Homo sapiens: one gene and its partner. The protein of the gene in region 1 purifies or fractionates together with the protein of each later gene. This does not show direct contact. Each region holds a gene or a part of one and is shown in the gene's direction. Other genes may lie near its edges.

The links. Proteins that work in one complex are often made in the same cells at the same time.
Region 2: the proteins of VASH2 (region 1) and RHEB purify together in Homo sapiens (affinity purification with mass spectrometry; one large-scale study listed by BioGRID and IntAct). This does not show direct contact.

Annotation. Positions count from the first base shown.
Region 1 is NC_000001.11:212,948,297-212,953,688, forward strand, and holds the start of VASH2 (tubulinyl-Tyr carboxypeptidase 2), read left to right. Parts: upstream 1-2,244; 5' UTR 2,245-2,444; intron 2,445-3,042; 5' UTR 3,043-3,246; coding exon 3,247-3,522; intron 3,523-5,392. UniProt on the Homo sapiens protein: Tyrosine carboxypeptidase that removes the C-terminal tyrosine residue of alpha-tubulin, thereby regulating microtubule dynamics and function.
Region 2 is NC_000007.14:151,471,007-151,475,733, reverse strand, and holds part of RHEB (GTP-binding protein Rheb), read left to right. Parts: intron 1-4,128; coding exon 4,129-4,185; intron 4,186-4,292; coding exon 4,293-4,340; intron 4,341-4,727. UniProt on the Homo sapiens protein: Small GTPase that acts as an allosteric activator of the canonical mTORC1 complex, an evolutionarily conserved central nutrient sensor that stimulates anabolic reactions and macromolecule biosynthesis to promote cellular biomass generation and growth.

The DNA of each region.
Region 1 (5,392 bases):
GGGCGCTTAGGTTGGTCCCATATTTTTGCAATTGCAAATTGTGCTGCTATAAACATGCATGTGCACGTGTCTTTTTCATATAATGACTTCTTTTCCTTTGGGTGGATACCCTGCCATGGGAATGATGCATCGAATGGTAGCTTTAGCTCTACTTCTAGTTCCTTAAGGAATCTTGCTGTTTTCTATAGTGGTTGTACTAGTTTACATTCTCACCAGCAGTTTTATGCATGTTCCCTTTTTGCCACATCCACATCAAAATCTATTATTTTTTGACTTTTATGACAATTCTCGCAAGAGTAAGATGGTATCTTATGGTGGTTTAATTTGTATGTCTCTGATAATTAGTGATGTTGAACATTTTTTCATATGTTTGTTGACTGTATATCCTCTTTTGAAAATTGTCTATTCATGTCCTTTGCCAATTTTTTGATGGGATTGGTTTTATCTGGCTGATCTGTTTGGGTTCCTTGTAGATTCTGGATACTGGTCCTTTGTCAGATGCACAGTTTGTGAATATTTGCTCGCACTCTGTGGATTGTCGGTTTACTCCGCTGATTATTTCTTTTGCTGTGCAGACCCTTTTTAGTTTAATTAGGTCTCATTTATTTATTTTCATTTTTGTTACATTTGCTTTTGAGGTCTTAGTCATGATTTCTTTGCCTGAGCTAATGTCTAGAAGTGTTTTTCTCATGTTATCTTCTAGAATTTTTATGGTTTCAGGTCTTAGACTTAAGTCTTTGATCCATCTGGAGTTGATTTTTGTGTAAGGTGAGAGACGAGGATCCAGTTTCATTCTACATGTCCACTTCAGCCTTTTGAGTAGCTGGGACTACAGGTGTGTGCCACCACATCTGGCTAATTTCAAAATATTTATTTAGTAGAGACAAGGTCTCGCTATGTTGGTCCAGTCTCTAATTCCTGGCCTCAAGTAATCCTTCCTCCTCTTTCTCCCAAAGTGCTGGGTTTAAAGGTGTGAGGCACCACGTCTGCCCTATTCTCATTATTGAATCTATAAAGTTCTTGGCATGGGCTCTGTCTCAGGGAGCAGTGCAGGGCTAAGTCCAGAATCCAGGTCTCCTCACCCAAGCCCTGGCTCTCAACTACCCCTCAGGGGTCTCTGCCCTCCTGTGGAAGAGAAGTTCCAGTTCCATGACAGGCAACTTGTCAGGATAAGCATCCAGAAACTGACCCGCCATCAGTGGCACTTTGACAACTGTCTTCTTAATTCAAGGTTCACTTAGCATAGGTCTCATAACTGCTTTGCTCAGAGCTGGCCTGCTGGCCTGCAGTTTAAAGAGAAAGGATGCTATGGCCAGGATCCTCAGTGTCACAAGAGAGGAAGTCAGGGAATCACAGAACCTTACAGCCAGAACAGACCCTGGAGAGCGGGAGGTCTGCTCTCCTTTCAGAAAGAGAAGCTAAGGCCCAGAGCAGGGAAGTGGCTTGTCCAGGGTCACACAGCTGAGCAAAGTGACAAACCTGGACCAGGAGCCAGCCTTCAGGTCAGCAGTCTGGTGCTCTTCCCACCTCAACCTGCTCTCCTCTTTCTTAAAGAAAAAGAAAGAGAAGGTGTTTCAGTAGTGAGTGTGGGATAGCCACCCACTTCACCATGGTTTGGAAGCATCTCTCCATCCCTCCTCTCACTCAACAGCTGTGGCAGAACAGTCAGGGCCTGCCTGACCTCTTGAGTTTTATTGTCTCCTCTCAACTTGGGCTTAAAGGGACTTTATTAACCATGACTAATACCAGAGGATCCAAAGCTGCACCCACTTGTTAATTTTGAGGAATTTTTAAATGCGGGATTTAAAAAAGATTTAATTTCACGCATAGGTATGAACAGCCCCTCATCATCCCAGGTAGAGGATGAACAACTCATCATCCCGGGTAGAGGCAGGTAAGTGTGTCCAGCGTCCCTCAGGGAATGCTCTTCTGATGCCAAACCCTCTGCTTCCGCGGGGTCACTTCTCGGGTGGTTTTGTTTCTCCTCTGCTTCCACAGTTGCAAACCCTCGAAGTGCCACGACCCCTGGGGAAACTCGATCTTAAGTCCCATGGCCAAACGCTCCAGCCCGCGGGGCTCTCAGGACACCACAGCGATCGGATTTCGCGTGGCCGCCAGGCTCCCCCTACTCCTGTCCCCTCCCGCCAGAGAACCCCTGGAGCCAATCAGAGCGTCGCGGAGCCCGGGGTTGTAGAGTCCCGAGCCCGGGACCCGCCCCTCTTTGTTGCGGTGGCCAATAGACGCATTCGGAACATCGGCGGCTGCCCGGGTGACTTGGTTATATGTCACAGAATAACATTCGAGAATGGGACATGGAATGAGGCGACGGCCCCAGCAAGCCCCAGCAGCCCCAGCCCCAGCCCCAGGCCCAGCAGCAGCAGCAGCAGCCCCTGCTCTCCCGCCGCCCGGAGAGGCTCTGCAGCCATGAAGCCAACCGTCCCGAGGTAGGATCTTGGAGCTGCCGCGCGCCCTTCCTGCGCGCCGCCCGCCTGCAGCCAGTCCCTCCCGGTGATAGGCGCTGGAACTCGGGGAAAAGGGGGCGGATGGAGCTCTTTCCACTAGATCCCCGCCGGGGTCCGGGAGGGCTTCCTGGAAGAAAGCGGGCCGCCTTGCAAGCCAAGGCTGCTGCAGCGCCCTCGCGCCAGCTCTGGGCGCTCACATGCCAGCACGTTCGTGGCTCCCCTCCTCTCTTGGCCACATCTGAGGACCCAGGAATGTGTGGAGCCTTGCGGGAACCTCCTGTTCCTTCATGCTACACAAGCTGTCTTTCTTCTCCCCACATCTTGCGCTCCGCATCCCCCAAGCTCCTTGTGCCCCTCCATCCCCAACCCCCCGGGTTTAGGTGTGTGTGAAGCTTCGTGGCACATTTTGAGCTGCCTTTCTAGGTAATCGCAGGGCTGGAAGCCCGTCATCGATTCTCAGGGAGGCTGTCAGCGTGCAGGGGGGAGCGGGGAGTGTCGTGGAGACACTCCGGGACCCCTCACTCGGTTCCGCTGTGCGTCCACTTAGCTGTGGTGTCAGCTGTGTCTCCGCTGATTTCAGGCACCGCCGGTAAGCAGGGAGCCTCCGCGGAGCTCCCGCCGCCGCTCCCCCTTGGTGAGTCCTGCCGCAGCGAGAGGCATGGAGAAGGCCGCCCCCGCGGGGCGCTGATCCCCTCGCCGCGCCCGCGCGCACACGCCCCCCGCCGCCGCCGCCGCTGCCGCCGCCGCGCGCCCCCAGTACCTCGCTCCCCGCCCAGGCCCCACCATGACCGGCTCCGCGGCCGACACTCACCGCTGCCCCCACCCCAAAGGCGCCAAAGGCACCCGGTCCCGGAGCAGCCACGCGCGGCCCGTGAGCCTCGCCACCAGCGGGGGCTCAGAGGAGGAGGACAAAGACGGCGGGGTGCTGTTCCACGTCAACAAGAGCGGCTTCCCCATCGACAGCCACACCTGGGAGCGCATGTGGATGCACGTGGCCAAGGTGCACCCTAAGGGGGGAGAAATGGTGGGCGCCATCAGGAACGCCGCCTTCTTGGCAAAGGTCAGTGGCTTCCAGGGCGGAGTTGGGGGGCTGGGGGTAGGTAGGCAGCGATGGGACCGTTTCAGCCTATACATAGCAAACACAGGCAATCTCCATTTTCCTAGTCCTGCTACAAACTCCCTTCCTCTCCCCATTCCTTCCTGCCAGCCCTTTTCTAATTGAGATATTTAGATTGGAAGCCTAAGAAATGGGGAAGGGAGAGGTAGCGGGCTTGCTATCCTGGGACTGTGTAATTGGATTGTGCCAAGGTGTCTTTGAAGCTCCAGCCAAACTCTATTATTTACTCACCCCCACATACATCCTCCTTCAGCAAAAGCTAGAGCCACCAGGTACCAGCGATGCCAAAGAATGCACAGACCCCAGGGATCCCACCCTGCTTGTTCTCTTTGGAGTGTCTTGCTCCTCCTCTGCTCCCCTCTTCCCCCAGCAAATGATTTATTAAGCTGTGAATGAATTTGAAATCAACCAGTCAGACTTCTCAGTGTGAATAATTTCCAGACTTTTTGCCAGTTTTTTTTCTTTTCTTTCTGGTTTTTTTGTGTGTGTGTGTGTGACAGTGACTTTCACCTCTGAAACTTGCAAAACGGTGAACTCTCTCTCTCTCTTCCCAGCTTATTTGTGCTCCAAGAAAAAAGAAAGACTTTTGGCTGAGACTTAAAAGGGACTTTCCAGTACACATGATGAATTAGTCTCACTGGATAGAAAAAGAGGATGAGGAGTGAAACTCTCTTTTTGCCTTGGAGAGAAGCCAGTGAGCCATTTGGGTTTGGTGGCTAAGGATATCTTTACCGAGGGAGGGAGATGTACCCTGGTGGGAGTAGATACGTTATATGAAACATCAAAATGCAAACTGGGGAGAAATGCTGCCGAGCCTCGGGGTTATAGCGTGGCGGATGGTTTCCCCTGGACCCTGGGGACGCTGGTACGGCTGAGAAGATTCCTGGGCAGGTCTAGGAATGCCAGACTTGAGACCCGGAAGGCCATCTGGTTGATTCCCCAGCCTGGTGACAGCTGAGCATCTGAGCCTGCAGGCCAGAAAGCTGTGTGTGTCCTTGGAGAAGTGACAGAGCCTCTAAACTTCCTGCTGCAGTCAGTTACAGTGTTCTATTACTCTGCTGGTCAAGGAGATCTTCATTGTGCCCAACTAGAATCTTGCCTGCTTTAGTGTCAACCATAATTACCCTTGCTGAGTTCTTGAATATGAGAACAACCTTTGTTCCTGGTTTGCAGTTCTGACTTGAGAATTTTTCCTCCAGTGAGGAGCCGAGAGCCCTTAAACTTGGAAGAAAAGTGACCACAAGGAAAAAAACGCCTGTTCCTACTGTCCCATGCTGCCTTTCTTAGTAGCACCCGTACCAACCCTGCCTCTAATTGTGCTTTTATCCTTCCTCCAACCATGTATGCGGGTGCGCGGGGGGGGGTGCATTCTCTATGTGGGAATCATGGAATTTTGCTGTTTGTAGAGACCAGTCTCCCACCTCTCAACAGAATCCCCTCCTCTTTCTGAAGACCTCTTGGGAATGGGGAGCTTGCTGCTTCCCAGGGCAGCTGATCTTAGGCCTGGCCAGAGTCGATTGTTAGGAAGCTCTTAGACCAACCATAAATCCTCCTCGCAGCACCCTCCCACCCGCAAATCACATTTCATCACTGATTGTTGTGTTCCTCTTGCCTTTTGAATCAGGGCAGAGCATTGTCAACTTCCTTTGCTACTCACAGCACCCTTGAATGTTATGAGAGAGTGCTCTTAGGATGGAAGGGACTTGGAGTAAAAATCAAGGAACTGAATCCTAGTCTTGGTTGTATGACATCTAGCCTTGTGCCTCACTTAAGTGAGGTCATTCACTTAAAATCTCTGTCCTTAGTTTTCTCA
Region 2 (4,727 bases), on another chromosome or scaffold:
AATGTATTTATTTATATTGTCACTGAAAGCAATGCTTGGATTGGATTTTATGCTTAAAACCACTGTGTACTTAGTATTTGGAAACATGATCATTTTCTTACTGACTTATAAGAGCACTTTAAATAGTAAAACTATTGGCCATTTTTATACAAAGATTTTTTTAATTTCAGTTGTATATTTTTAAAATGTATATACTGCCACGTGTAAGGCCTTGTCCAGAACAAATTTAGTGTACCAATAATCTAATGAATGTTGGAAGTTCATGTTTGTTTATGAATTTCCATTATTTTACTAATTTACTTGAAAAACATGATTCAAAGATTGTTTTGTTGTTGGTAAGTACAATTTTATCCTAGCTGATTTTTAGAAAACAGTGTTGGTGTTACTTTACAAATTGTTACTTTGAGGCATTAAAGTAGTAGGTAGAAAATTTTCTTAGTGCATCCACTGATTTTTTTTAAGTCTCTTTTTTGGTGTGCACAAATTAGATGACATTATAGAATCAAGTTGAAAACATAGCATGTGCCACTGGGGAAATTGAAAAATACATTGAGCTGGATTAAAAATATGAAAGTGTGCTCACCAAGGACCTTATGTATTTGAGAAAACACTGGCCTAGTGCAAAGCAGAGGACAAAAAGCTTGGTACTGTGTCTTCTCAGTGGCACTGTTGCAAGTTTTGACCAAGTTTCTCCTTACTAAAATGGGTGTGTTTTCTTTTGTTATATGCCTTTTACCTCAGTAACTCATAGTTTAATGAGCATTCTCAAATCTCAAACATGAGTGTGAGAAGAGTGGTGTTTTGTTTTTTAGAAACCTATATGCTGAATACACAAATATTTATGAATATACAAGAAATATGTCAGTAAAACTTTCTGAATCAACCAGTTTGTTGATCAGAATTGTCTAATCCTTTTTATTGAATTTAACCTCTATCTAAATAATAACCATTTTCATTGTTTGTGAAATAAAACAGAAGTCTCACATTATTCCTTTATATCATAAAACCCCTGTAGAATTGCTCTTTCTGAGTAAATAAAGCGAAAATACATCCTATTTCATAATTTCTAGAAATGGAAAAAAGAAACCTGCAGTTGAGAGATGTGAGATTTGGGTTTTCATTTATCCCCACTAACAACTTTGGACAAGTTACTTCACCGTACCTTTGTCGCCTGTAAATTGGGTATATTGATATAGGAGTAGATCTCTCCTATCTGAGGCAGCCGGGTTACTTACTTTAAAACATTAGTTAAGGGCCAGGCGCAGTGGCCCACACCTGTAATCCCAATACTTTGGGAGGCCGAAGTGGGCAGATCATTTGAGGTCAGGAGTTCGAGACCAGCCTGGCCAACATGGTGAAACCTCATCTCTACTAAAAATACAAAAATTACCCGGGTGTGGTGGCGGGTGCCTGTAATCCCAGCTGCTCGGGAGGCTGAGGCAGGAGAATCTCTTGAACCTGGGAGGCGGAGACTGTATCATGAGCTGAAATCATGCCATTGCACTTCAGCCTGAGCGACAAAGCAAGGCTGTGTCTCAAAAAAAAAACAAAAAAACAACACTGGTTAAAGGGAAAAAAAATCGGAAAGGTGATGTCAATCTCCAGTGTTTTGTTTTAAAGCATAAATATACATTCAGTCACTCATCTTGTGAAATTTTCAAATTGTCATCTTTGAATATGAGTTCACCCACTGCTGTTCAGTATGACTACATCCACGATTTGTCCATTATGACTTCTGGTTCGGTTTCTTCCGAGTGAGATGCTTGGGAAACAGTCTACACCTCAACTATTTAGATTGCTGTGATTTTCCCCACCAGTCTTTTTCAGTTGGTTTGGCACACCTTATTAAGGAGCACCGTTTTTAGTAGATCAACTCACAGTATTCAACTTCTAGTTTTCAGACAAACAAAACTCTGTCTACACATACTTCAAAAGTTTGCAACATAAATTATGACTATGATGAATTTAACTGGCATAAGTGGGTTTGGGAACAAATGGGGCTGTTTTAAATAATGCCTTTTTTTTCTAGTAGCTCGTAGTTTAATCAGCATTCTCAAATTTGAGACATGAGGGAGTATGAGAAGAGTGGTGTTTTGTTTTTTAGAAATCTGTATGCTGAATACACAAATATTTATGAATATCCAAGAAATACGTCAGTAAAACTTTCCGAATCAACCAGTTTGATTCAGAAAATCAGTGATCTCAAGAAATTTAGCCACTTAGAACAGTACACATTTATGATCTCACAGTTTTTGTGGGTCAGGAATCTGGGTGTGGCCTAGCTGTGTCCTCTGCTTCAGTCTCTCAGAGCCACAGTGTGGGTATCAGCAGGGGCTGCAGTCCCATCTGAAGGCTTGCCTGGGGGAAGATGTTTCCCAGCGTGTTCACGTGGCTCTTGACAGGGTTGAGTTTCTTGCAAGTTGTTGGACTGAGCTTCTTAGTTCCTTGCTGGCCGCTGGCCTGAGGCTGCCCTCTGCTCCTTGCCAGGTGCTTCACTTCATTGGGGCAGGTGCACAAGAGAGCCAGGGAATTTCCTGCATGACAAGCCACTGTCTTTTATAACCTAACCGCAAAAGGGACATTCCATCACCTTTGCCATATTCTGTTCATTAGACGCACGTCACTAGGTCCATGCAGGGAGATGACACACAGTGTGGCCACTAGGAGAGCAGGAGATCTGGGAGCCGGCTCCAAGCTGCCTGCCACACAGTCCTAGTTCTTTCAGCTGTTTCTCACGTGACAGGGTACTGTATTTTTGCCCAAGTGGCGACACTTTTAAAGATAGGCAAATACAGCATGCGGAGGAAACCGTGGTTCTGTAATGCAACCGCAGGTCCTTAGGACACCCATATCCCATTTGTTGACCCACAGCGAGCTTGTAGGGGGGTTAAATTTCATTTTTGTTTTTATCAAATGACAGCACACATCGTTTAAAATAGCACAGTGTGTAATTCATTCAACAAGCTAACTTATTCTGAAGCTTGTGATGCAATCATGAACAAAGCAGACAAATCCCTGCCCTTGCGGACCTATTATTTCTGGTGTGGGAGACAAACAGTAAAACGACACACATGCGAGATAGGATGTCTGTGACCATGCTGCCAAGAAAAATAAAGTACGGAAGGGGTAAGAAATGGAAAGGAAATTTGTCATTTAGGGTAAACAGAAGAGGTGTAAGAAGTGACATTTGAGGCTGGGTGTGGTGGCTCACGCCTGTAATCCCAGCACTTTGGGAGGCCGAGGCAGGCGGATCACGAGGTCAGAAGTTTGCGGCTTGAGAGTCACTGGGGCCGAGTAAAGATGGCCACCCATCAGAGGATGTTGAACCAGGCACCGTCCATCTGCTGCAGCAGAGTCCTCTGGTTGCTGTGCTGAGCAGGGGTGGCGGGGAAGGGTTGGGGCTGTGGAACTGATGCAGGCAGACTTGGGCCAGGAATTCACACCTCAGCGGCAGCAGTGGAGGGGAGTGAGAAGCCGTCAGATTCTAGGTAGGATTTGAAAGTAGAGCCAGTGATGTGCTGGCAGATGTTTGCATGGGTTTTTTGGGGGAGGGTGGAAAATGATTTGTGGCCATTTGCCAGCAGTCAGTGGTATAAATAATCCTGCTGTGGCAGATTTCAAGTGATCATTATGACATCTCAGATCCCCTTCCCGGTGAGAGCCACCTCCATCCTAGAGTCATCGGCTCATTGATCTGATTGAAAGCCAAGAGATACTGGCATCACCCAGAGAATGTATGTACCTAGGAAAGAACACAGGAGCAGGCTGAATGTACTAGGGCACTCTAGGAAAAGCTGTTCAAGTTGTAATGTAAACAGTTGGTTCTTTGCTGAATGAGTTGGGTGATTAAAATTTGCATTTATGTGGTTTCTCAGCCCAGTGGTAGGCTTTCCGTTTGAATGCCTTACCTGTTTCACTTTGAATATCCTCAGTCAGGGTTGCTGAGTGTCAGATGTATGCACATGTGAATGGATTGCTAGGAAAAAACAGGAGTTCTTTGTGTTCATTTTATGTTATGTTAAAATGGTGAGTCTGTGACATTTTACATTTTTCCAGCTGGCAACATAACATACATTTAAAAACTTCAACATTAAAATGGATGTCTAATTTATACTTTTTGTTTTATAGTTTTGAAGTGATTAAAGTTATCCATGGCAAATTGTTGGATATGGTGGGGAAAGTACAGTAAGTAGTACCATTTTATCTGCTTGTTAGAGAAACTTCTTTTAATAGTATCTTCTGAGCAATACAATCTGGCACTTACTGGTTTGTCTTTTTTTTCTTACAAATAGAATACCTATTATGTTGGTTGGGAATAAGAAAGACCTGCATATGGAAAGGTATGTAGCTTTTATAAAGTCAAATCTAAGATGATTTAGTCACTGAAGTATCATTTTAATTATTGTTCTGATGTCAAGAATATTTTTAGCTGTAGCATTTTTATCCGTTCAGAGGTGTTATGGTCGTGTGCAGCAGAAGCAAAAGTGGAATAGAAATCTCACATTCCTCTAGAAAAGAGAGAGCAAACTTTATAGGAAACTACCTTTAGGTTATCTGCCACTTTGCATAAAGCAAATTCTAAAAAGACATAGTGCTCATTTATGCAGCAAGTGGTTTTTGAGTACCAGGGTTTGGGATTACAGTGAGGAGCAAAGGAGGCAGATGTCCCCTGCCCAGGCAGCTTCATGTCAGAGAGGAAGAGACTCTACAGCCTGCATGCAAGAGAA